Linked DNA regions of Homo sapiens. The protein of the gene in region 1 purifies or fractionates together with the protein of each later gene. This does not show direct contact. Each region holds a gene or a part of one and is shown on either strand. Other genes may lie near its edges.

What was found.
Region 2: the proteins of RABEPK (region 1) and GOLGA4 purify together in Homo sapiens (affinity purification with mass spectrometry; one large-scale study listed by BioGRID and IntAct). This does not show direct contact.
Region 3: the proteins of RABEPK (region 1) and DHTKD1 fractionate together in Homo sapiens (co-fractionation; one large-scale study listed by BioGRID). This does not show direct contact.
Region 4: the proteins of RABEPK (region 1) and VGF purify together in Homo sapiens (co-immunoprecipitation; one large-scale study listed by IntAct). This does not show direct contact.
Region 5: the proteins of RABEPK (region 1) and GMEB1 purify together in Homo sapiens (affinity purification with mass spectrometry; one large-scale study listed by BioGRID and IntAct). This does not show direct contact.
Region 6: the proteins of RABEPK (region 1) and TRIOBP purify together in Homo sapiens (affinity purification with mass spectrometry; one large-scale study listed by BioGRID and IntAct). This does not show direct contact.
Region 7: the proteins of RABEPK (region 1) and CCR6 purify together in Homo sapiens (co-immunoprecipitation; one large-scale study listed by IntAct). This does not show direct contact.

What each region holds. Positions count from the first base shown.
Region 1 is NC_000009.12:125,217,542-125,221,041, forward strand, and holds part of RABEPK (rab9 effector protein with kelch motifs), read left to right. Parts: intron 1-2,997; coding exon 2,998-3,159; intron 3,160-3,500. UniProt on the Homo sapiens protein: Rab9 effector required for endosome to trans-Golgi network (TGN) transport.
Region 2 is NC_000003.12:37,298,771-37,302,270, forward strand, and holds part of GOLGA4 (golgin subfamily A member 4), read left to right. Parts: intron 1-62; coding exon 63-250; intron 251-517; coding exon 518-601; intron 602-3,414; coding exon 3,415-3,500. UniProt on the Homo sapiens protein: Involved in vesicular trafficking at the Golgi apparatus level. May play a role in delivery of transport vesicles containing GPI-linked proteins from the trans-Golgi network through its interaction with MACF1. Involved in endosome-to-Golgi trafficking.
Region 3 is NC_000010.11:12,075,454-12,078,953, forward strand, and holds part of DHTKD1 (2-oxoadipate dehydrogenase complex component E1), read left to right. Parts: intron 1-3,500. UniProt on the Homo sapiens protein: 2-oxoadipate dehydrogenase (E1a) component of the 2-oxoadipate dehydrogenase complex (OADHC). Participates in the first step, rate limiting for the overall conversion of 2-oxoadipate (alpha-ketoadipate) to glutaryl-CoA and CO(2) catalyzed by the whole OADHC.
Region 4 is NC_000007.14:101,162,770-101,167,043, reverse strand, and holds the start of VGF (neurosecretory protein VGF precursor), read left to right. Parts: upstream 1-1,474; 5' UTR 1,475-1,670; exon of another isoform or gene 1,671-2,058; intron 2,059-2,180; 5' UTR 2,181-2,200; coding exon 2,201-4,048; 3' UTR 4,049-4,274.
Region 5 is NC_000001.11:28,716,819-28,719,853, forward strand, and holds the end of GMEB1 (glucocorticoid modulatory element-binding protein 1), read left to right. Parts: 3' UTR 1-2,535; downstream 2,536-3,035. UniProt on the Homo sapiens protein: Trans-acting factor that binds to glucocorticoid modulatory elements (GME) present in the TAT (tyrosine aminotransferase) promoter and increases sensitivity to low concentrations of glucocorticoids. Also binds to the transferrin receptor promoter.
Region 6 is NC_000022.11:37,703,548-37,707,047, forward strand, and holds part of TRIOBP (TRIO and F-actin-binding protein), read left to right. Parts: intron 1-3,500.
Region 7 is NC_000006.12:167,126,096-167,129,595, forward strand, and holds part of CCR6 (C-C chemokine receptor type 6), read left to right. Parts: intron 1-209; exon of another isoform or gene 210-550; intron 551-1,053; exon of another isoform or gene 1,054-1,232; intron 1,233-3,500. UniProt on the Homo sapiens protein: Receptor for the C-C type chemokine CCL20. Binds to CCL20 and subsequently transduces a signal by increasing the intracellular calcium ion levels.

The DNA.
Region 1 (3,500 bases):
AGGCACATGCCACCATGCCCAGCTAATTTTTATATTAAAGAGGGTGATTTTCTATCATATCCCTTTTCTCTCCTAGAAAATATAATTTGACATCATGCCCAAGAAATATGAAATATGTACTTAGTTGCATTTGTTACCAAGGCAAGTCCCTCAAATGCTCAGGACTCCTTTGTGATTCTTTGTGCTGGTGTTTGAGTTGGCAGGAATACAGCCCTAGGGTCTTCTGGGCCTGGAGGTGACATGTATACCTTTCTAGCTCCCTCTAAGATCCAAAAGCTCTCCAACATCTGTAACTATAGAGACAGCTACATTTTGCTTTGGATATAGGCTGAGACTTTTTCAGTCTCCAGGTCCCCATTTGAGTCCCACACATATTACAGATGTTTCCTGTAGCATTTTATATATTGGATGTAGACCTTTTACAAAAGACAGAATTTCTTGGTGTGTTATGGTAGAGCAAGTGTGGGACTCTGATAGAACTGAGTTCAGGCCCGGCGCGGTAGCTCACGCCTGTAATCTCAGCACTTTGGGAGGCCGAGGCGGGCAGATCAGGAGGTCAGGAGCTCGAGACCATCCTGGCTAACACGGTGAAACTCCGTCTCTACTAAAAAAAAAAAAAATACAAAAAATTAGCCGGGCATGGTGGCGGATGCCTGTAGTCCCAGCTGCTCGGGAGGCTGAAGCAGGAGAATGGCGTGAACCCGGGAGGCGGAGCTTGCAAAGTGAGCCGAGATCGCGCCACTGCACTCTGGGCTGGGAGCCACAGCGAGACTCCGTCTCAAAAAAAAAAAAAAAAAAAAAAAAAAAGAACTGAGTTCAAACTCCTGCTCTGCTACGCACATATGCTATAACCTGCAGGAAAGGATTTAAATGTGCAGAGCTTCAGTTTCCTCATCTAAAAGTAGAGATACTTCCGCTCACTTCCCAAGCTTGAGTGAAGACACCAGGGATGGCAGTGCCCAGGGCAATGATGCTGCCCATTGAGGGTGCTCAATTAATGCATCTGCTTCTATAAAACCCAGGTTCATCCTTAAAAGAAATAAGCTTCTATACATCTATCTAGGTGGTGAAATTTTATTCTCCAGTCAGAGGAGTGGGAATTAGAAAGATCTTGGTGTTACTGAAAGAGTTTAAATTCCAACTCAGCCATTTCTTAGGCATGTCACTTTATCTGTCTCTCTCTCTCTCTCTTTCTCTCTCTCTTTCTTTGCCTTATTCTGTAACCCAGGCTGGAGTTGCAGTGGTGTGATCTTGACTCACTGCAACCTCAACCGCTGCAGGCTCAGTATATCCTCCCACCTAAGCTTCTCAGGTAGCTGGGACTATAGGCATACGCCACCACACCCGACTAATTTTTTTTTGTATTTTTTTGTAGAGACAGGGTTTTGCCATGTTGCCCAGGCTGGTCTCAAACTCCTGGGCTCAAGCAATCCACCTGCCCCAGCCTGCTAAAGTGTTGGGATTACAGGCATGAGCCACCGAGCCTGGCTAGCCATGTCTCTTTTAAAAAGTTACTTAATCCATCCCTACTTCAATTCTCTTACCTGTAAAATGCGGAAATTAATATTTGTTTAGCATTTACTGTTTAGTAGGGACTGTTATTACTGCTACTGAAATGTAATAGTATTGTCTTTTTTTTTTTTTCATTTCTTTCTTTCTTTTTTTTTTTTTTCAAGATATGGTCTTACTCTTTTACCCAGGCTAGAGTGCAATGGCACGATCATAGTTCATTGCAGCCTCAAACTCCTGGGCTCAAGCAATCCTCCTGCCTTGGCTTCCCAAAGTGCTAGGGTTACAGGCCTTACAGCCACTGTGCTCAGCCTAATTTTTTTTAATTTTTAATTTATTTTATTTTATTATTATTATTTTTTAAGATGAAGTCTCGCTTTGTCAACCAGGCTGGAGTGCAGTGGCATGATCTCAGCTCACTGCATCCTCCGCCTCCTGGTTCAAGTGATTCTCCTGTCTCAGCCTCCTGAGTAGCTGGGATTATAGGTCCCCACCACGACACCTGGCTTTATTTATTTATTTATTTATTTTTAGTAGAGATGGGATTTCACCATGTTGGCCAGGCTGGTCTAGAACTCCTACCCTCAAGTGATCCACCCACCTTGGTCTCCCAAAGTGCTGGGATTACAAGCGTGAGCCACTGCACCCCTGGCTGATTTTTTGTAGAGACAGGATATTGCTTTGTTTCCCAGTCTGGTCACAAACTCCTGGGCTCAAGCAATCCTCCTACCTCGATTTCCCAAACTGCTGAGGTTACAGGTGTTAGCTGCTGCACATGGCCTGCCTACTTTCTTTTATTGGCCACATTTTCTGGGAAATCTGGCACACCTGGACTCTGGCATCTAGTGGGAATGAATGTTAGCAGATGTTAGGGGGAGCGATAGTGAGCAAAGTAGAAGAGGGTTCAGAGAGGATATTTGAAGGCCTCCAAAACAAATTGACCTCTTTTTTTTCTTCTTTTTTTTTAATATGGAGCCTTGCTCTGTCACCCAGGCTGGAGTGCAGTGGTGCAATCTCAGCTCACTGCAACCTTCACCTCCTGGGTTCAAGCGATTCTCCTGCCTCAACCTCCTGAGGAGCTGGGATTACAGGTCCCCACCACCATACCCGGCTAATTTTTCAGATTTTTAGTAGAGATGGGGTTTTACCCCATGTTGGCCAGGCTGGTTTCGAACTCCTGACCTCAAGTGATCCGCCCGCCTTGGCCTCCCAAAGTGCTGGGATTACAGGCATGAGCCACACTGCACCCAGCCTGACTCCATTCTTGTGCTTACAGCTTTTAAATCTTGGGGATTTTGGACTGTCTTGGCAAATCCTAAGTATCATCTTCATTCTTCCTTGATGTTTGTGAGTATGAGATCCCTGCCCAAAACTATGCTGGCCCCCCTGGGGATTGGAGTTTGGAAACTGACTTCACTCAGCCCCAGAGTCAAGGTCAGAAGCCCCTCTACCTGGATATTTTAAGTGCCTGCATTCTCTCTGGCCCAGAAACCAGGACGTGGACCACGCCAGAAGTGACCAGCCCCCCACCATCCCCAAGAACATTCCACACATCATCGGCAGCCATTGGAAACCAGCTATATGTCTTTGGGGGCGGAGAGAGAGGTGCCCAGCCCGTGCAGGACACGAAGCTGCATGTGTTTGACGCAAGTATGGACTGGTGGGCACCTTGGGGCTGGTCAGGGCCATCCCAGTTTACACATTACCTAATATAGGAAGCAGAAGTTAGAAAAGGAAAGCCTGACTAAGTGTCTCACTTCTAGACTTCTTTGTTATATCTCTTAGCTGATATCTTTTTCCCACAGCAAAATTGGCATTTAAAAAGGGATAGTGAGGCCTGGCATGGTGGCTCACACCTGTAATCCCAGAGCTTTGGAAGGCTGAGGCAGGTGGACCGCTTAAGGTCAGGAGTTCGAGAACAGCCTGGCCAACATACCTTTTCTCTACTAAAAACACAAAAATTATCCGGGCATGATGGTATGCACCTGTAA
Region 2 (3,500 bases), on another chromosome or scaffold:
TTTTCCAAAGGCAGTTTCATATTCCTTACTGATGGGCCCTTCTTATGTTGCTTTATTGTTAGTGGAAGATGGAACTTCTGTAAAAACACTGGAAACACTCCAGCAAAGAGTGAAGCGTCAAGAGAACCTACTTAAGCGTTGTAAGGAAACAATTCAGTCACATAAGGAACAATGTACACTATTAACTAGTGAAAAAGAAGCTCTGCAAGAACAACTGGATGAAAGACTTCAAGAACTAGAAAAGATAAAGGTAAAAGAGCAGATGAGTTTTGTTCTAATTTAATCTATAAAGTTAGATCCACAGGCTCCACAGCATGGCTTGTACCTCCGGGAGAGGAGAGTGGATGGAAAGGGCATTTTTGTTTGCCCTGGCCTACATAACACCAAACCTTGAGACTTACTGTGTACTTTTTTCCTTCTGCACTGTAACATGTATATAAATTAGATAAATGTTTAGAGTTCTCAAATGAGAAGAAGCTTTATTAGAGATGGAAATGAATTTAAAAATTTTTTTTAGGACCTTCATATGGCCGAGAAGACTAAACTTATCACTCAGTTGCGTGATGCAAAGAACTTAATTGAACAGCTTGAACAAGATAAGGTAAAACAACAAAACCTATGATACTAAAATTTGTCAAGAGGCCCCAACATTTACTTTTGGAAACAGTTGGAAACATTCATGCTTGTTTCTGTTTTCTAAAAATTATTGCAGCTTTTTCCATGAAAAATCTTTAATTTCTAGATTTTTGTAACTACTAGCATTAGTTTTGTGTCATGTAAAACTGATTCTCTGATTTCTTGATCCCAGTCAGCATTATGATTTGTAGACTAGAATAACTGTTGCAAAGGAAGTTTATATTTATAGTACATAACTACTTTACAGAGAAAAGTTATTTATAGTTAAGGCATTATAAATGTGAATGATATCAGTATGTTCTTTCAGATAATATGGAAACAGATTAATCTCTCAGATAAGTTGCCTAACAAATAAATAAGGGGCTGGGCACAGTGGCTCATGCCTTTAATCTCAGCACTTTGGGAGGCTGAGGCGGGAGGATTGCTTGAAGCCAGAAGTTCAAGATCAACCTGGGCAGTAAAGCAAGACCTCCTCTCTACAAAAAAAAAAAAAAATTAGCTGGGTATGTTGGTATATGCCTGTGGTCCCAGCTACTCGGGAGGCTGAGGCAGGAGGATTGCTTGAGCCCAGGAGTTAGAGGCTACAGTGAGCTATGGTCACACTAGTGTACTGCAGCCTGGGTGACAGGGTGAGACCCTGTCTCTTAAAAAAACAACAAACAAAAATAAGTGATAATGTATATATTAGCATAAATAAAAATGTCTACAAATGAATTTTAGAATGTGTAGATGAGATTAGAGGATTGAGGAAGGAATGAGTCTTACCTTTGGTAGTTTGGAGTTGGAGCAGCAGCTAAAGCTACGCAGCAAAGACAACCAGAAAATTCATGGGTAAACAGTTTTGACCTGTCTTTCAGCTCCAAGTTCTTGGGTCCTTTTTCTAAGCAGCTCCCAGTTTGTTCCATAGCATCCACCATTTTCTTTAATATGCCGGGTTATCACTAGAGTATTTTAAGTGGTCACGTAATTAAGAACATGTCAGAGCTGTCCTGCTGTTAAAATGTATTGGCAATCTTTTTCATCCTTTTGATAATACTGCTTTGCTAGATTATACACTTCTTGAGGGCCTACTTAAATTGTTTTTTTTTTTAAATATTATAATGAAGAACTTAAAACATTTACAAAAGAAAAGCTGCTAAAATGAATTTCTTTGAACCCACCACCCCGCTTCAACAGTTAACATCTCATGACTAATCTTGTTTCATCTGTACCTTCTCAACTGTCATTGTCCTACTCACCCAGAATTGTTTTAGAGCAAATCCAAGAAATTTTATCATTTTTTTCCAAAAGTATTTTAATATATCTTTAAAATAAAAGACATTATTTTTACAATACTATAACCACATTATCATGATCACATCTAAAAATTTAATAATTTTAAAATATGACCTGCTATCTAGTCAGTTTCAGATTTTCTCTAGTTTCTCATATATTTTTTGCTCTTTTATGAATCAGGGTCCAAATAAAGTTTTTTCATTGCAATTGGTTGATATGACTCTTAAGATTTCTTTTAATTTACTGGTTTGATTATCTTCTCTCCTTCTCTTTCCACTATATTTTGGTTTTTGAAGAAACTGAAAGCCCATGATTTTGTTTTGAGATTTCATATAGCAGTGCCTCACTTACGTGGTTGTTATCTCTCTGTCTCTCCATTAATATTAGCCATCTGGAAGAGTCATATTCTAAAGCAAGGGTTGGCAAACCCTGTGGAGAGGGTGCTAATCTTAAGACCATGAAATTGTTGTCACAAAGTCTGAACATTTTTTCAAGAGACAAGTGAACCACCTCATTTTTTGTTAGTCCTAAATGACTTTTTTACTGTATACCATTTAGTTGTCTTTTTCCCCTGCCGACCTCCATTTCTAGTGTAGATTATCCAGAAAGAGGGAACAGAAGTAACTAGCAAGTTGGAGGAATGGAGATGCCTTACAAAGTAAGGAATAGTGGTGGTACCAGAGACAGTCACAGGAAGAAAGAGAAGAACCAGGTAGATGTGTCCTGGGATTTTGCTTTATCCAGTGTGGCAGCAGGCACCTTCCATTCTCAAGTGTCTGGGGTTATCCCCATGTTATAGTACAGATCAATACTTGTAGTTTATTGTAGTGCCAAGCCAGGTTCAGAAGACTATATTTTGTTCATTATAAACTGTTTACTAAGACAGATAGCACATTTGTAGAAAGGCTATAAAATAAATCTTTTAAGTAATAATGTTTTAATGCTTTAAGGATTAAACTATTAAAATTTTTAATGTAAAAAATACTGTTATGCTAGGTAATAGGATTAGAGCAGAAAACAGACCTCAGTTTGTGAAGTATTGAAATAATTGTTATGCTGTACTTAGCAAGAAATATCATTTTTTCTGCCTTTTATTTTTTGTTTTTTAATTTTTAATTTTTTTTTGAGACGGAGTCTCACTCTGTCACCCAGGCTGGAGTGCAATGGCGTGATCTCAGCTCACTTCAACCTCTGCCCCCTGGGTTCAAGCAATTCTCCTGCCTCAGCCTCCTGAGTAGCTGGGATTACAGGCATATACCACCATGCCTGGCTAATTTTTGTATTTTTAGTAGAGACAGGGTTTCGCCATGTTGGCCAGGCTGGTCTCGAACTCCTGATCTCAGGTGATCCACCCTCCTTGGCCTCCCAAAGTGCTGGGATTATGGACATGAGTCACCATGCACCATGCCCGGCCTTTTTCTGCCTTTTAAATTAAGTTTTATCTGTGCTGTTGATGATGCAGTTTTGTTATGCAAATGTTTTAGAGTCTTCACTTCTATTCAGGGAATGGTAATCGCAGAGACAAAACGTCAGATGCATGAAACCCTGGAAATGAAAGAAGAAGAAATTGCTCAACTCCGTAGTCGCAT
Region 3 (3,500 bases), on another chromosome or scaffold:
ATGGTCTCGATCTCCTGACCTTGTGATCCGTCCGCCTCGGTCTACCAAAGTGCTGGGATTACAGGCATGAGCCACTGCGCCCATCCAATTTTTGTATTTTTTGTAGAGACAGGGTCTCACTCTGTTGCCCAGGCTGGTCTCAAACCCTTGACCTCAAGAGGTCCTCCTGCCCCAGCCTCCCAAAGTGATTACAGGTGTGAGCCACAATGGCCATCCAGTAATAGGAAGTATTTTATGAATAATTCTATTGCTGTGCTCTCATTCTTTTAAATTTTATTTTTATTTATTTTTCTATCCTTCCAGGGAAAAAGAATTAAATCTTTTAATTTCATTCTTTATTATAAAGGTAATACAGTTGAAGTACGTTTTATCTAGAGCATTTGAAATTGGAACTTGATCAGTTAATTCCATTTATTTTTATTTTACTTCTTTTTTTTACTTCTTTTGTTTTTTCTTTTAAAACAATTTTGACAGAGCGAGACTCTGTCTCAAAAAAAAAAAAGGAAAAAGAAAATAAAGCAATCTGAATGCAAAATCTCTAGATTTTTCTGATTTCTTCCCCTAATTTTACTTTTTCCCACAGCAACAGTCTTAGGGACAAATAGAACTGATTCTTATAAGCACAAAGTCAACTGATGAGAGCAGTGCTGCATATGCTAGAGAGAAGCCACAAACCAAAGCTTTTAGAGTGAGTGCATCAGGCAGCAAGTCCGCTAAATGGCTGCATTCGAAAGAGCTTTATTGCCGAGTGCGGTGGCTCACGCCTGTAATCCCAGCACTTTGGGAGGCCGCGGTGGGCGGATCACGAGGTCAGGAGATACAGACTATCCTGGCTAACACGGTGAAACCCCGTCTCTACTAAAATACAAAAAATTAGCTGGATGTGGTGGCACAGGCCTGTAGTCCCAGCTACTTGGGAGGCTGAGGCAGGAGAATCGCTTGAACCCAGGAGGCAGAGGTTGCAGTGAGCCGAGATGGTGCCACTGCACTCCAGCCTTGGCAACAGAGCGAGACTCTGTCTCAAAAAAAAAGAGCTTTATTGTACATGTTCACTGTGGAAAACTGTGAGAATACAGTAAGCAAAAAATAGCAAATCTGCCTGGGTGTGATGACGTGCACCTGTAATCCCAGCTACTTGGGAGGCTGAGGCAGGAGGATCTCTCGAGCCCAGGAGTATGAGTCCAGCCTGGGTAATATAGCCAGACCCTGTTTCTTTTTTTCTCGGGACGGAGTTTTGCTGTGTCGCCCAGGCTGGAGCGCGGTGACGCGATCTCAGCTCACTGCAAGCTCCGCCTCCCGGGTTTACGCCATTCTCCTACCTCAGCCTCCCGAGTAGCTGGGACTACAGGTGCCCGCCACCACGCCCGGCTAATTTTTTGTATTTTTAGTAGAGACGGTTTCACCGTGTTAGCCAAGATAGTCTCGATCTCCTGACCTTGTGATCCTCCTGCCTCCGCCTCCCAAAGTGCTAGGATTACAGACGTGAGCCACCAAGCCCAGCCAGCCAGACCCTGTTTCTGATAAAAAAAAAAAAAAAAAAAAGGAAGAAAAAAGAACAAGTCGGCAATTTCTACATAGGATTATCACTTAAATTTTTGATCAGTTTCTTTTGTTTATGAAAAATATATGTGTGCATATATATAAGTATATATAATTACATATACTAATACATATACTATAAGATGAAATATATATTATAAACTACTCATATGTACATACACAGTGTAACAATGTAGGTGCATGCTTTATATGTTGTGGTCATTCATTAAGTGTTTTTTGTTTTTTTTTTTTGAGATGGAGTTTCATGCTTGTCACCCAGGCTGGAGTGCAATGGCACAACCTCGGATCACTGCAACCTCTGCCTCCTGGGTTCAAGCAATTCTCCTACTTCATCTTCCTGAGTAGCTGGGATTACAGGTGTCTGCCACCAGGCCTGGCTAATTTCTTGTTTTTAGTAGAGACAGGGTTTCACCATGTGGGCCAGGCTGATCACAAACTCCTGACCTCAGGTGATGAGGTCACCTTGGCCCGCCTTGGCCTCCCAAAGTGCTGGGATTACAGGCATGAGCCACTGTGCCCGGCCATTCATTAAGTCTGGATGCTTTTTCATCAATCATTCTTCTACAATATTATTTTTTAATGGCTGTCGGCAATTTGAGATGAGTTAATGCCATTGCTTGTTCCTCAGAGGATGGGTTTATAAAGAGAGAACTAATGATAGGGAGATGTCAATGAAGAATGAGGAGGGCCTACGTTTGTCTTCAAGATTGGAGGGTGCGGGTGAGGGCCACTGAGTACCTTCACGTCGTACTCATGCTCTCTAGGGACAGCCAAGTTCTGATTAAACCCAGGAGTGTGAGGAACGTTCAGAGAGGTTTGTTTTTCATGAAACAGAGTGCCAGAGGTCTCGGTGGAAGGAGGTGGAGACAGAGAGGGAAGGGGTTGGAGATAGGGTTGGTGGAAGAAGAAACCTGCCCGAAGAAATGGTAGTCTGAGGGAGCATGTGTTGCCAGGGTGAATGGAGGACGTGCCTGACATGAGAGAGGACTTCCTCTTTCTGCTGGTGCCAAACTGCTACATGCCTCATGTTCTTTGTGGCAAGGAGGGTTATTTTGTGCCAACTTCTGTGTCAGTATTCTAGTGTATCATTAGCAGCCTGGCTAGTGAGTACTTAGAAATAGAAGCAGTGGGCCAGTCACAGTGGCTCATGCCTGTAATCTCAGCACTTTGGGAGGCCGAGGCGGGTGGATCACCTGAGGTCAGGAGTTGGAGACCAGCCTGGCCAACATGGTGAAACCTCTTCTCTACTAAAAATACAAAAATTAGCCAGGTGTGGTGGCACGTGCCTGTAATCCCAGCTACTCCGGAGACTGAGATGGGAGAATTGCCTGAACCTGGGAAACAGAGGTTGCAATGAGCCATGATCGTGCCGCTGCACTCCAGCCTGGGCAACAGAGCAAGACTCCACCTCAGAAAAAAAAAACAAAACCAACAAAAACCCCACAAAAATTAGCCGGGCATGGCGGCACGCACCTGCAACCCCAGCTACTTGGAGACTGAGGCAGGACAATCGCTTGCACCCAAAAGGCGGAGGCTGCAGTGAGCTGAGATTGTGTCACTGCACTCCAGCCTGGGTGACAGAGTGAGACTCCGTCTCAAAAAAAAGAAAAAGAAATAGAAGCAGTGATCTCTAGGCATTGACATGGGTTCTTCTCTAAGGGGATGTTTTCTTTTTTCTTTTTTTGAGACAAAGTCTTGCTGTGTCACACAGGCGGGAGTGCAGTGGCACCATCTCGGCTCACTGCAATGTCTACTTCCCAGGTTCCAGCGATTCTCCTGCCTCAGCCTCCACAGGCACGTGCGACCACACCCGACTAATTTTTGTATTTTTAGTAGAGATGGGATTTCACCATGTTGGCCAGACTGGTCTTGAACTCCTGACCTCAAGTGACCCACTGGCCTCGGCCTCTAAGGGGACGTTTTCAATATGGCTGCTGGTT
Region 4 (4,274 bases), on another chromosome or scaffold:
ACAGACAGCCCTGACCTTGGTTTCCAGAGTCTCAGGGTGCGGGTGCCCTGCGTGTGCCCACGAGCACCCCTATGTCCGCAGTTCGTGTGTGTCTGGCGTGTGTCATTGTCATTCCCCCCTTCCCTGCCCACGCCCCCGCACCGCTCTCTGCCAGCACCGCAGCCCCCTCCAGGCTTCCTCCCTCCCTCCCCTTCATTCCTGCAGTGGCTGCCCCCCTTGCCACCCTCTCCTCTCCCCTGCCCCCTCCCCATTTCCGTCCTCCCCCCCACCCCCGCCCACGGCTGGTCTCCCTTCACCGGACCCAGCTCTCTGATGGATTCTCTTTGCGCAAATCTGTGCGTCATCGCCCCCCACCCCCGGAACCTCTAGCTGTCCAAGCCCCCAGCCCCAACCTCTCTGGCAGGAGATACGGTCGAAGGGGCTGGTGGCAGAGAGGGGCTATCTCTGACGTTGCAGGTCCCCCTCCCATCGCGTTCAAACCTTCCCTTTAAGCGGTGGAGAGAGCTGGAGTTGAGTCACCCCCCCCCCACCTGCGCAACCCCCTCCCCACCTGCTCTGGTCTCGCCCTCCAAACGTCCTTGGGGGAGGGGAGCGGCAGGAGGGAAAGCGACTGGGGGAGTGTGGGAAGAGATGGGCCGAAGGGGGCACAGCGGGGGGCCTTGACACAAGCGGCAGTCAGGGGACAGAAGGACAGACACACCTTTTTCTCCAGACACAGCACGGATCGTGAAACAGACACGACCCAGAGGCACACACATCCTCATTCTTTCCCTTTTCTCTTCCGACTCGGACCCTTCCCGATGGGATTACCAAAACCGCAAGATCCACCCATCTGCCCCTGTCAGGGGGCTGCCACCCGCACTGCCGATTCGCGGACAGCGCCCGCAGGCGTGCAGATCTGTCCCTCTGCACTCAGGTTCACGCCGTCCTTGGGCGCGTGGTCTCGGGGTGGGGAACCCGGCCCCCTGGTCGGCTCTTGAATCTTTATCCTTCCCCTCCCCAGTATTGAGCTCCCACTGGTGCCCAGTCAGACGCTGGGACTACCCTTTTTCTATTCCACTCAGCAACGCGGGCTCCATCCAGCAGCTCCAAGTTGCTCTGCAACCCACCCTCCCGCCTTCCAGCGCCTCTGCATCCACCCTTCCATTCATTCTCCCATTCATTCATTCATCCTTTTCTCCTCGTCCCTCCTTCATTCATTCATAGCCCCCCGCCCTGCCCGCTTCAGCATTTCATTCATTCATTCATTCATTCATTTCCCGGAGCTCCGCTAGCGCACACCCCTTCAGCCGAAGGCCCCAGCGCGCAGGCGCAGGCCGGGAGAGGCAGGCACCCTCCAATCGTCGGGCGTCCTTCCTCCTCCGGGCGGCCGCCCGCTTCCCCATGAATGAACATTGACGTCAATGGGGCGGGGCGCGCCCACGTGACCCCGCGCGCTCCCCTTTATAAGGCGGTGGAGGCGCGGGCGCTGTCCAGCGTGCTGAAGCCGGAGCGAGCTAGCCGCCCGGAGCCGCGCCGACCCAGCTGAGCCCAGCCCACGGGACGCCAGACCTCGACCGTCGCTCCTACCCCGGCCACCGCTCGGAGCCGAGGCGGACGCGTCCCGATCTTCCCCTGTCCCCACCCTGCCCCGACCCTCCTCTCCACCTCTCGCGTCGTGACACCAGCTGGTAAATACTCCGCTGTTCGTCCCTCAAACCCTCGGCAGCCAGCCGTGGGCGTGAGGGAGGGTTCTCTCTCCTCTCGATGGGGGTGTTGCAAACACAGCGGGGAGCCCCCTGGTAAGGGTCCCCGGTAAACGGGGGAGTCGCAGCTTTTTCTCTTGCTGCTGAAGTCGCCCACGCACCATCCGGGGAGTCCTACGGGGAGGGAGCAGAGATTTTTTTTTCCCCCATATTGCTGCTGCTTAGTACGTGGGCGATGGCAGTGAGATGGCTCAGGGAAGGGGCCGAGGAGGCCCTGGGTAAGCGAGGGCTTCGGGGGTTATTTTCCCATTTACACGGCTCCAGAGATCGGCACAACATCTTCCTCCTTTGCTCCTAAACGTTCCTCTTCTGGGTAAGGTTTGGGGGATCAGGGAAGCCCCGGGTTTCCTGCTGAAAGGTGGGGGAAGGGAACGTAGACCTAGAGAGGGGAATTCTTACAGAAATCCTCTTTTTTTGGTCCCTTCTATTTTTCAGTCTCCGGCAGCCTCTTGGTCATGAAAGCCCTCAGATTGTCGGCTTCCGCCCTCTTCTGCCTTCTGCTGATCAACGGGTTAGGGGCAGCACCCCCTGGTCGCCCTGAGGCGCAGCCTCCTCCTCTCAGCTCTGAGCATAAAGAGCCGGTAGCCGGGGACGCAGTGCCCGGGCCAAAGGATGGCAGCGCCCCAGAGGTCCGAGGCGCTCGGAATTCCGAGCCGCAGGACGAGGGAGAGCTTTTCCAGGGCGTGGATCCCCGGGCGCTGGCCGCGGTGCTGCTGCAGGCACTCGACCGTCCCGCCTCACCCCCGGCACCAAGCGGCTCCCAGCAGGGGCCGGAGGAAGAAGCAGCTGAAGCTCTGCTGACCGAGACCGTGCGCAGCCAGACCCACAGCCTCCCGGCGCCGGAGAGCCCGGAGCCCGCGGCTCCGCCTCGCCCTCAGACTCCGGAGAATGGGCCCGAGGCGAGCGATCCCTCCGAGGAGCTCGAGGCGCTAGCGTCCCTGCTCCAGGAACTGCGAGATTTCAGTCCAAGTAGCGCCAAGCGCCAGCAGGAGACGGCGGCAGCAGAGACGGAAACCCGCACGCACACGCTGACCCGAGTGAATCTGGAGAGCCCGGGGCCAGAGCGCGTATGGCGCGCTTCCTGGGGAGAGTTCCAGGCGCGTGTCCCGGAGCGCGCGCCCCTGCCGCCCCCGGCCCCCTCTCAATTCCAGGCGCGTATGCCCGACAGCGGGCCCCTTCCCGAAACCCACAAGTTCGGGGAAGGAGTGTCCTCCCCCAAAACACACCTAGGCGAGGCATTGGCACCCCTGTCCAAGGCGTACCAAGGCGTGGCCGCCCCGTTCCCCAAGGCGCGCCGGCCGGAGAGCGCACTCCTGGGCGGCTCCGAGGCGGGCGAGCGCCTTCTCCAGCAAGGGCTGGCGCAGGTGGAGGCCGGGCGGCGGCAGGCGGAGGCCACGCGGCAGGCCGCGGCGCAGGAAGAGCGGCTGGCCGACCTCGCCTCGGACCTGCTGCTCCAGTATTTGCTGCAGGGCGGGGCCCGGCAGCGCGGCCTCGGGGGTCGGGGGCTGCAGGAGGCGGCGGAGGAGCGAGAGAGTGCAAGGGAGGAGGAGGAGGCGGAGCAGGAGAGACGCGGCGGGGAGGAGAGGGTGGGGGAAGAGGATGAGGAGGCGGCCGAGGCGGAGGCAGAGGCGGAGGAGGCGGAGAGGGCGCGGCAGAACGCGCTCCTGTTCGCGGAGGAGGAGGACGGGGAAGCCGGCGCCGAGGACAAGCGCTCCCAGGAGGAGACGCCGGGCCACCGGCGGAAGGAGGCCGAGGGGACAGAGGAGGGCGGGGAGGAGGAGGACGACGAGGAGATGGATCCGCAGACGATCGACAGCCTCATTGAGCTGTCCACCAAACTCCACCTGCCAGCGGACGACGTGGTCAGCATCATCGAGGAGGTGGAGGAGAAGCGGAAGCGGAAGAAGAACGCCCCTCCCGAGCCCGTGCCGCCCCCCCGTGCCGCCCCCGCCCCCACCCACGTCCGCTCCCCGCAGCCCCCGCCCCCCGCCCCCGCTCCCGCACGAGACGAGCTGCCGGACTGGAACGAGGTGCTCCCGCCCTGGGATCGGGAGGAGGACGAGGTGTACCCGCCAGGGCCGTACCACCCTTTCCCCAACTACATCCGGCCGCGGACACTGCAGCCGCCCTCGGCCTTGCGCCGCCGCCACTACCACCACGCCTTGCCGCCTTCGCGCCACTATCCCGGCCGGGAGGCCCAGGCGCGGCGCGCGCAGGAGGAGGCGGAGGCGGAGGAGCGCCGGCTGCAGGAGCAGGAGGAGCTGGAGAATTACATCGAGCACGTGCTGCTCCGGCGCCCGTGACTGCCCTTCCCGGTCCCGCCCCCGCGCGCCCCCGCCGCGCGCGCGCGCCGGCGCCCCCCTCCGTGTTGCCCGCTCCCCCTCGGTGTTTGCATGCGCCCCGGCCCTGCCCCTTGGCCCTGCCCCTGTCCCCGGGCTGCGTCGGGACCTGCCAGACCCCCCTCCCGGGTCCTGAGCCCGAACTCCCAGAGCTCACCCGCGGGTGACCGGGGGCCAGCCCAGGAGGGCG
Region 5 (3,035 bases), on another chromosome or scaffold:
GATTTCTTCTCTTTGACCCTCTTCAGTGTTTGGGGCAAGAGTGGACCCTGGTTTTTATTTCTTTGATTGCATTGTTTACTGCACTAGGAAAAATATAGAGATACAGGGAAACTACAGACAAATTTAAGGAAAAATAGGTCAAAAAAGAAAGCACACACCTTAAGAGTGGGAGGAATATTTTTATTAAAAACAAAACTTGGACCTGTAGTTTTTTTTTTTCTTTTTTATTTTTAAGAAGGCACCTTTCAGAAGCCATGTTTCTTCCAACAGATGTTGGAAACCCCATCGAGCAAGTAAAAGTTGCATTCTCCATCCCTCAGATGGCTGTATGTAGTCAAAGAAACCCTGTAACATGGTAAGGTTGCTGTTTTTTTTTTTTTTTTCTTTTTGAGATGGAGTCTTGCTCTGTAGCCCAGGCTGGAGTGCAATGGTGTGATCTCAGCTCACTGCAACCTCCGCCTCCTTGGTTCAAGTGATTCTCCTGCCTCAGCCTCCTGAGTAGCTGGGATTACAGGCTCCCACCACCACGCCCGGGTAATTTTTGTATTTTTAGTAGAGACGGGGTTTTGCCATGTTGGCCAGGCTGGTCTTGAACTCCTGACCTCAAGCGATCCGCCCGCCTTGGCCTCCCAAAGTGTTGGGATTACAGGCATGAGCCACCGCACCCAGCCTGAAGGTGACTCTTAAGAATGAGATTTATGAACTCCATACAGTTGTAGATTTCAGTTTTTAAATAGTCTGGGGTTTTATTTTTCTTTTCAAAATATCTAATAGACTTAGCAATCAATTTAGAACAAATATTTGGCCCTTAATATATCTTTAGTGAGGGAAGTAGCTTTTATTTCCTGCTTGTTTAGGTTTTCTGTTGGTACATAAAAACAAAATTGCTGTCTCAGACTGAATCTACTTGAATCTAGGAAGGCACATCTCATCCCTATTGTGGTTTTTAGGGACACTTTTCTCTTTCCCAGAGATGAGAGGACCAATTCAGGACAGAAGAGCCCTCGTGAATACCAACGTGCTAGCTCAGGTTCCCTTCTTTCCTCCATCAGAGCTATTGGTAGGGTTTTAAGGTCGTGTGTGCATCATGCTTCCAATGTCAAGAGATTTCCTCAAACAGCCTGTTTACTAGATGAATTTTCCAGCTGGTGAAATACATGAGCTTTGTTGTTTTCCTGGTCTTCCAATAGCCTGTCATTATTGTTAGATATTATGGCACCTGTTGTTGAATGTAGGTTCCCTTACAGCCCTGGTCTAGATGATCCTAGATGGGGTGAGACATATGCAAGCCATTGGTATGTGCATAAGCAGTTGCAATGAACCTTAGGCTGACTTGGTAGTAGGCATTTGTCTTTCTGTTCATGCATTGAATAAACATTTTTAAGAACCATCTATGTGCCAGGCTTTGTGCTAGGCACTGACAGTAGAGAGATGAAGACATAGTCCTTGCACTTAAGGAATTCATACTCCAGATGTCTGGAGTTAAGAAATACATATTTCAGCCAGGCATGGTGGCTCACACCTAGAATCCCAGCACTTTCAGAAGCTGAGGCAGAATTGCTTGAGGCCAAGAGTTTAAGACTAGCCTGGTCAACATAGCCAGACCCCATCTCTATAAAAAAATGTAAAAATTAGTCAAGTCTTGTGGCTCGCACTTGTAGACACAATTACTCAGGATGCTGAGGCAAGAGGATTTTGCTTGGGCCTAGGAGTTCAAGGCTGTAGTGAGCTATGACTTTGCCACTGTACTCTAGCCCAGGTAACAGGGCAACATCCCCAGCTCAGAAAACCAAAACTACACATTTCATTATAATTGTTTTTTTTTGTAATTTTATGTATTTTATGCATTGAAAAACATTATTTAAGAATTGGTTCATAGGTTTCAGCAGACTGCCAAAGGCACAAACAAGCAGCTCTCCTTTACTGAGGTACTGAAACAGATCCTACTGCGTAAGTGCTGTGTGTGATAGGGCTATTGGCTAGGAGCTGAGAGAACAAAGCATGAAGTGCCTAACCCAGCTTAGCGGTGTAGAGGTGGGGTCAGCAAATAAGGGAGATCTTCCTGGAGAAGGCATATACCTAAGCTGATTTAGGAGAGACCACTTTTGGCTAGGTTTATTGTACTACTTGATTTTCAAGTAATTGGGCTTATTTATTCTAGAGAAAAAGTCTTCAGTCTCTTGCTTCTGCCTGCAAAGCAAGGCAGAGTCAGCAACATGGGCAGTCTCCCCACTGGAGAACGCTGAGTCATGCATGGGCTTCTCCAAGTTTCCATCAGATGGGATCCAGTGTTGAATCCAGTGCAGGACTGGAGTCTAGCTGGCAAAGGGTAAATGCCCCCAAAGCCTTCCTGCCATATGGTTTCCACGAAGGCCTGAGAGTCAGCTGTACAACTGTCTTGTCTTGGCCATGTCCCTGTTTGGTCCCTGCCTTGTTCTCTTCCCTTTCTCAATTTCCAAGCTCCACCCACTCCTAAAAACACCAGTCATTCTGAAGTAAAAAATGGACAATAAACATGAATATTCAAGATTCAAAGCCACTTCATATGAAGGTTCTTTTGCACCTCTGTCCTTATTAGGGAAGGAGGACCAATGTTAATCCAAACATCTGGAAAATTAATATTCAGTTCAGGTGGTTCTGACACCCACTAGTGGTAGCATTTTATCCCATTTCATGAAAGGCATTAAAGGTAAGACTATGGTGGAGAGTGTTGATTATAAAGATAGTAAAAGTCAAGCATGAAATGTGGAATTAGTAGTTGAGTTATAGCATCCAGGTTTTAGTACTATCAGAGAGGTGGAAAGGACAAAGGAAAGGTTGAATTCTGAAAATCGGCATGAGGTTGTGATTCACCTTGGGCAGTTTGAGGAACTCGTCCTCTCTGAGACATAATGTCATACACTAGCCTAGCTCCTGCATTTTGAGACAACTTTCCTAGTACAATTGATCACTTCCCTGGAGGTGCAGCACATCCCTTACTCCAGGTTAGTTCCTCCCTGGGAAATCCTCCCTGGGAAATTTTTGTGTAGTCTGAA
Region 6 (3,500 bases), on another chromosome or scaffold:
AGGCTGGAGTACAGTGGTGCGATCTGGGCTCACTGCAAGCTCGGCCTCCCAGGTTTATGCCATTCTCCTGCCTCAGCCTCATGAGTAGCTGGGACAACAGGCACCCGGCACCACGCCCAGCTAATTTTTTGTCTTTTTAGTAGAGACAGGGTTTCACCATGTTAGCCAGGATGGCCTCGATCTTCCTGACCTCGTTATTCGCCCACCTCGACCTCCCAAAGTGCTGGGATTACAGGCATGAGCCACCGCGCCCAGCTTCTACCAGTCTTGATACCTCCAATAATAGCTCTCTTGTGCTCACCTGCAAGTTCAGGTTCAGGGAACAGATGCCTGGGAGTCCATCTTTCATGCAAATGACTTTCTTCCAGTGGTTGGGAAGATGGCAAGAATGGAACAGGAGAGCCGTGGATTCAGGCTCGTCTGAGTTCTAGTCTCAATCCCACCATTTCCCACCCGAGACCGTGGGTCAGCTCACAAATTCATACGTACTGAATAGGTGCTTAAAATGTGCCAGGCATTATGCTAGATGATGGGGAAATCATGATAAATCAGAAAGGCACAGCCAGGCACAGTGACTCACTCCTGTAATCCCAGCACTTTGGGAGGCCAAGGTGGGTGGATCACTTGGAGTTTGAGACCATCCTGGCAACATGGCAAAACCCCATCTCTACAAAAAATTTAAAAAATTAGCTGGGCGTAGTGGGATGCGGCTATAGTCTCAGTTACTCAGGAGGCTGAGGTGGGAGAATCACCTGAGACTGGGAGGCGGGGGCTTCAGTGAGCCGTGATCGCATTACTGTATTTCAGCCTGGGTGACAGAGTTGGACCCTGACTCAGAACAGAACAGAACAGAACAGAACAGAACAGAACAGAACAGAACAGAACAGAACAGTACAGAAAACAGGGAGAAGGAGGGGAAGGGGGAGGGGAAGGGGGAGGGGGAGAGAGAGGAGGAGAGGAGGAGAGAGGGACACATCCCTGGCTTGTCTTCATGGGGCTTATATTCTAGCAAGAGAAATGCACATGATTATTTAATCTTGGTTGTGATAAATGTATAAAGGAACAGTAAGTGGCATGAAGGTAAAGGATAGGGCATTAGGGAAAGTTTCTCCAAAAAAAAAAAAATGACATTTCAGCTGCTTAGTAAAGGCTGTGCAGGCATTAGCATTAGTGAAATTGCAGGAAGAGGAGAGGAAGGAAGGAGAATGTGCAAAGGCCAGCCTGGCACGGCAGCTCACGCCTGTAATCCCAGCACTTTGGGAGGAAGTGCTTGGATTGAGGCACCGAAGCAGGAAGATCACTTGAACTCAGGAGTTTGAGACCAGCCTGGGCAGCACAGTGAGACCCCATTTCTACCAAAAAAAAAAAAAAAAAAATTAGCCAGGCAGGATGGTGCACACCTGTAGTCCCAGCTAGTCAGAAGGCTGATGTGGGAGGATTACTGGATCCCAGGAGTTCAAGGTTGCAGTGAGCCATGAGCATGCCAATGCACTCCAGCCTGGGCAACAGAATGAGACCTTGTCTCAAAAACAAAACAAACAAACAGGTCAGGTGCAGTGGTTCATGCCTGTAATCTCAGCACTTTACGAGGCCGAGACGGGTGGATCACCTGAGGTCAGGAGTTCAAGACCACCCTGGCCAACATGGTGAAACCCCATCTCTATTAAAAATACACAAATTAGCTACATGTGGTGGTGGGTGCCTGTAATCCCAGGTACTTAGGAGGCTGAGGCAGGAGAATCTCTTGAACCCAGGAGGCAGAGGTTGCAGTGAGCCAAGATTGCACCACTGTACTCCAGCCTGGGCAACAGAGCGAGAATCCTCTCAAAACAAAACAAACAAACAAAGAATATGCAAAGGCCCTGAGGCAGAAAGGAGGCTGCACATCGGGCTGGAGAGGACAGGCAAGAGGGGGGCACAGAGGAGCTATAGGACAAGGATGGAGAATGGGGGGAGGCCTGGTCTCACTGGCCTTGTGCGGCTTTGTGGACATGTTGAGGACTTAGGATTCTGAGGTTTTTTTCTGTTTTGTTTTTGTTTTTTTTTGAGATGGAGTCTCGCTCTGTCGCACAGGCTGGAGTGCAGAGGCGTGATCTCGGCTCACTGCAACCTCTGCCTCCCAGGTTCAAGCGATTCTCCTGCCTCAGCCTCCCAGGTAGCTGAGACTACAGGCATGTACTACCAAACCCAGTTAATTTTTGTATTTTTAGTAGAGATGGGGTTTCACCATGCCGCTCAGGCTGGTCTTGAACTCCTGGCCTCAAGCAATCTGCCCTCCTTGGCCTCCCAAAGTGCTGAGATTACAAGTGTGAGCCACCTCGCCCGGCCAAGCCACGGAAGATTTCAAATAAGGGAGTGACGTGCTCTGATTTGCATTTTTCACAGTCACTCTGATTGCTGGGCAGAGAGAATGGAGGGCAGGGTGGTGAGAGTGAATCAGGTGACCCGCCAGGAAAAGGTGCACGTACTCATCGGTGCCAGAGATGATTGGGGCTTTGAGATGGAGGCAAATGGACACATTTCCGAACTAATTGAGCAGGCACGTCTACAGGATTTGGGGGTGAGGGAGGGGAGAAACCCATGGCTGACTCCTGTAATTTCTTCAGGCAGGGTACTTGGGTTGGGAGGTCTGTTTGGAGTTGTCTGGGGCATGGTGTGGGGTGTCGGCAGGATACAGTGGAGATGAGGGGGAAGTTAGTGAATTGGTGGGGCTGGAGCTCAGAGCCAGACCATCACAGGAGATGGAGGCCTGCGAGTCTTCAGGATCTGTCACTGACCAAAGTCTTGCTCACGGATGAGCCTATCATCTGTGGAAGAAAGTGTGGAATGAGATGAGAACAGGCCTGGGTGGAGGCCAGGGAATCAGCAGAGACAGCCAAGAAGGCCAGAGGCTAGGAGGCAAACCCCACAGTGTGCCCCTCCTCCCCAGGAGCCAAGACCAGAGATGGTTTCAAGAGAGGGGGCCAGGCACAATGGCTCCCGCCTGTGATCACAGCACTTTAGGAGGCTGAGGCTAAAGGATGGCTTGAAACCAGGAGTTTAAGACCAGCCTAGTTAACAAAGTGAGATCCCATCTCTACAAAACAAAAAATGAACTGGGTGTAGTGGTGCATGCCTGCAGTCCCAGCTACTTGGGAGGCTGAGGCAGGAGGATTGTTTGAGCCCAGGAGATTGAGGCTGCAGTGCACTGTGATCATGCCACTGCCACAGCAAGACTATCTTAAAAAAAAAAAAAAAAGATCAGAGAGGGGCACGACATCAAATCCTCCACTTTCTTGAGCTTCCAGTTGCTCTGATGATGATCAAGGCTGTGAAACTCTCCTTTGGCAAATGCATGAGGGGTGACTGTTGTGTCTCCGAGCCAGGCCCTGGGACCCAACTCTGGGCAGGTAGCAGCTCCCTGTGTATACCAGATGTGATAGTAAAAAACTGACACTGGGCCGGGCGCGGTGGCTCACGCCTGTAATCCCAGCACTTTGGGAGGCCGAGGCGGGTGGATC
Region 7 (3,500 bases), on another chromosome or scaffold:
GGTAGGATAGCTTGAGGCCAGGAGTTTGAGGCTGCAGTGTGCTATTATCGTGCCTGTGAATGGCCACTGCACTATAGCCTGGGCAACATAGCAAGACCCCATCTCTAAAAAAAGGTAGTTTATTTATATGATTTCAAGCCTAAAATACATACTGAAGTATAGCTTATCATTATTTGCCTCTAAGTAAGGGAAGAAAAAGCCATTAAAAATATCTTTTAATACGAGTTTATTTCTAAGTCTAACGTATGTCCACAAAGAGAAGAGAATCAATCAGACGTGAGGCCTGCACAACTTTTGTTTCATGCATTTGCTAGGGGAATGGAGGCACTTCAAGTCAGAGGCTGGTGTGGGGACCAGCACACCGTCTAAAGATTCCTCCTGTGTTTGCCTTGGTGGCACCCCTTGCCACATTCCCTGGGTCAGGCAATGCCAGCCCTGGGGGGCCTGTGAGCTGCTGCAGTCAGGTGGTGGGTGCATGTAGCCATCTTCTTGTCTTCCCTCTGCTGTTGCCTCGAATAGGGATTGGCCCCTAGGAGCTGCTCAGACCTGTCTTTGGATGAATGAATGAAGAGTCCTCTAGGTTAGTGATATTCTTTGGCTGTGTCCCCATCCAAATCTCATCTTGAATTGCAGTTCCCATAATCCCCACGTGTGGTGGGAGGGACCAGGTGGAGATAATTGAATCATGGGGCAGTATCCTGTTCTCGTGATAGTGAGTGAGTTCTCACGGGATCTGATGGTTTTACAGGGGGCTTCCCTCTTCGCTGGGCACTCATTCTTCTCCTTCCTGCCATCATGTGAAGAAGGATGTGTTTGCTTCCCCTTCTGACATGATTGTCAGTTTCCTGAGGCCTCCCCAGCCATGCTGAACTGAGTCAATTAAACCTCTTTCCTTTATAAATTACTCAGTCTCAAGTATGTCTTTATTAGCAGTGTGAGAACGGACTAATACAGTCAACTTATTGATCATATGGTTTATATAATCATACATCTATAATTATATAGATTATATAGTCAGATTATATGATTTATATCATCATATAAATAAACTACCTTTTTTAAAGAGATGAGGTCTTGCTATGTTGCCCAGGCTGGAGTGCCGTGGCCATTCACAGACACGATAATCACACACTGCAGCTTGGAACTCCTGGCCTCAAAAATTTCCCAAAGTGTTTCCAAAGAACAGGAACTGAAAAGGTTCTGTGAGTGAGAAGGTTTGGGAAATAGTGAGTTATTCCAGCAGGGCTCTGAAGGGCCACTGATAAACAAGCTCTAATAGGAATAAACTAGGGAAGGATGTAGTTAGCATCTTATTAATGTCTTAATATACTAGCCACAGAGAAATCATTTCCCACCCCTGTCTGTCTCCCTCCCTTCTTTTTACCCAGAGCATCTCTTGGAACTCACTTTTAGATGCTGGATGCATGAATTCCCTAAGAAGAAACAGCTCCTAAATTGAAGTATGCATTAGAATAATACAGAGATTGTGTTAATGCAAGGATTTGAATCTTCAAAGCAGACATCCATAGGATCTATAGATCTTACCTAATGTCAAACTTTACTAATGATTCAATAACAAAAACACTAGGCAGAGAGATGCATCCCATGTTGGCTGGGCTGTTCTCAAACTCCTGGCCTCAAGTGATCCACCCACCTCAGCCTCCCAAGGTTCTGCGATTACAGGTGTGAGCCACTGTGCCCAGCTATTCTGTGCTTTTAGATAGGGGTTCCCAGGCTTCTTTCCACTAGTAAGTACTATTTGCATGTTTACAAGGAGATCTGGTCCTCGCCCAATCCAGTCATGGGCAGAGTTCAGTTCTTTGTGACTGTAGGACTGAGATCCTCATATTCACGTTGGCTGTCAGCAGAGGGCCTTTTTAGCTTCTCAGGGCAACCACATGGCTCGGCTTGTGGCCCCCTCTTCTGTCTGCAACTCCAGCAACAATACATTGAATCTCTCACCTTTGAATCTTTTCTTCTCCCGTCTCCAGGGAGAAGGACTCTTCACCTCTAGGGACTCGTGATTGCAGTGGGTCCAACTAGATAATCCAGCATGATCTCTGCTTACCTCCAGGCCCTTAGATCTTTGACTTCATTGCATATGCAAAATCCCTTTTGCTGTGTAAGGCAACACGTACACAGGTTCTGGTGCCTGTGTCAGGGCCTGGGCAGGGGGCCATGATTCCGCTAACCACAAGCGTGACATGGGGCCATGATTCTGCCGACAAGTGCTGTCCCCTGTGTCCGGTGCCTCCGCGCTCTATCTATTATTGGGTTGGAAAGCCTTAGTGACCACGGTGGAGAGTACCCAGAGGTGAGCAGAGCTGGCTGGCTTTCCAGCTGGCTGGATGTCTGCGCCCACATAGTACTGATTAACTAGCCTCTTGGTGAGATTACTAGCAAATAAAATTCTTAAGATTTTTGCTGCTGCTGCACTTTCATCTTATATCTGTGTAGTTGCTTATTTATTTTTGTATTTTTATTTTTTATTTTTGAGACGGAGTCTTGCTCTGTCACCCAGGCTGGAGTGCAGTGGCACAATCTCAGCTCTCTGCAAACTCTGTCTCCCAGGTTCAAGTGATTCTCTTGCTTCAGCCTCTTGAGTAGCTGGGATTACAGATGTGTGCCACCACACCCAGCTAATTTTTTTATATTTTTGGTAGAGACAAGGTTTCACCATGTTGGCCATGCTGGTCTCAAACTCCTGACCTCAAGTGATCCGCCTGCCTTGGCCTCCCAAAGTGCTGGGATTACAGGTGTGAGCCAATGCACGCGGCCTGCTTATTTAAAGCTATGTGGAGAAGCTTCTATTTTCCCTACTGAATTTTACAACATTAGATTTACCCATTGCTTGATTCTGTCCAGAATATTTGTACATTGATTCTGTCATCCAATATATTAATTATCTTTTTAGGCTTCTTGACATCTTCAGATCTAATGAACTTGCCTCCTCTCTTTTTGCCCCTCTCATCAATAGAAGCAATGGGCAGGACACAGCTGAAGGCCGAAATCAGTGCAGTGTCCATAGGGCCTTGTGCCAGCCTGCCAGCAAAGTGGTGTCACAGAGCCAATTGTCCAGACACCTAGCAAGCCACCTAATTGTACTTGCACCTGGATCATGGTTCCTCTTCTTGATTGCTTATAAGTTTCAGATTTTATCGTAAGTGTTCAATGTCTGTAACACCTCCCTGATCTGCAGTTTATTGACTGTTACCACCAAGGCTTGGAAATCAGTGTGACATGACTGAGTGTTACCAAACCCACGCTGACCCCCAAGGGCCCACCACTTCCGTTCCAGACGCTCCTGCACTTGCTTCATAATGCCCTCAACACCCTGCTGAGAACCAACAGCCAACATTTTACCTCATTCGGAGGCATTATCTTCTTTCTCTCTGCAAATGGGTTTTGAGCTTCCTTACACCAGCTCTATGCTCCTGGACTTCACAGGCACCATTCGCTGGAGTCAGGCAAATTCACTGCAACATTCCCTGAATATTTTT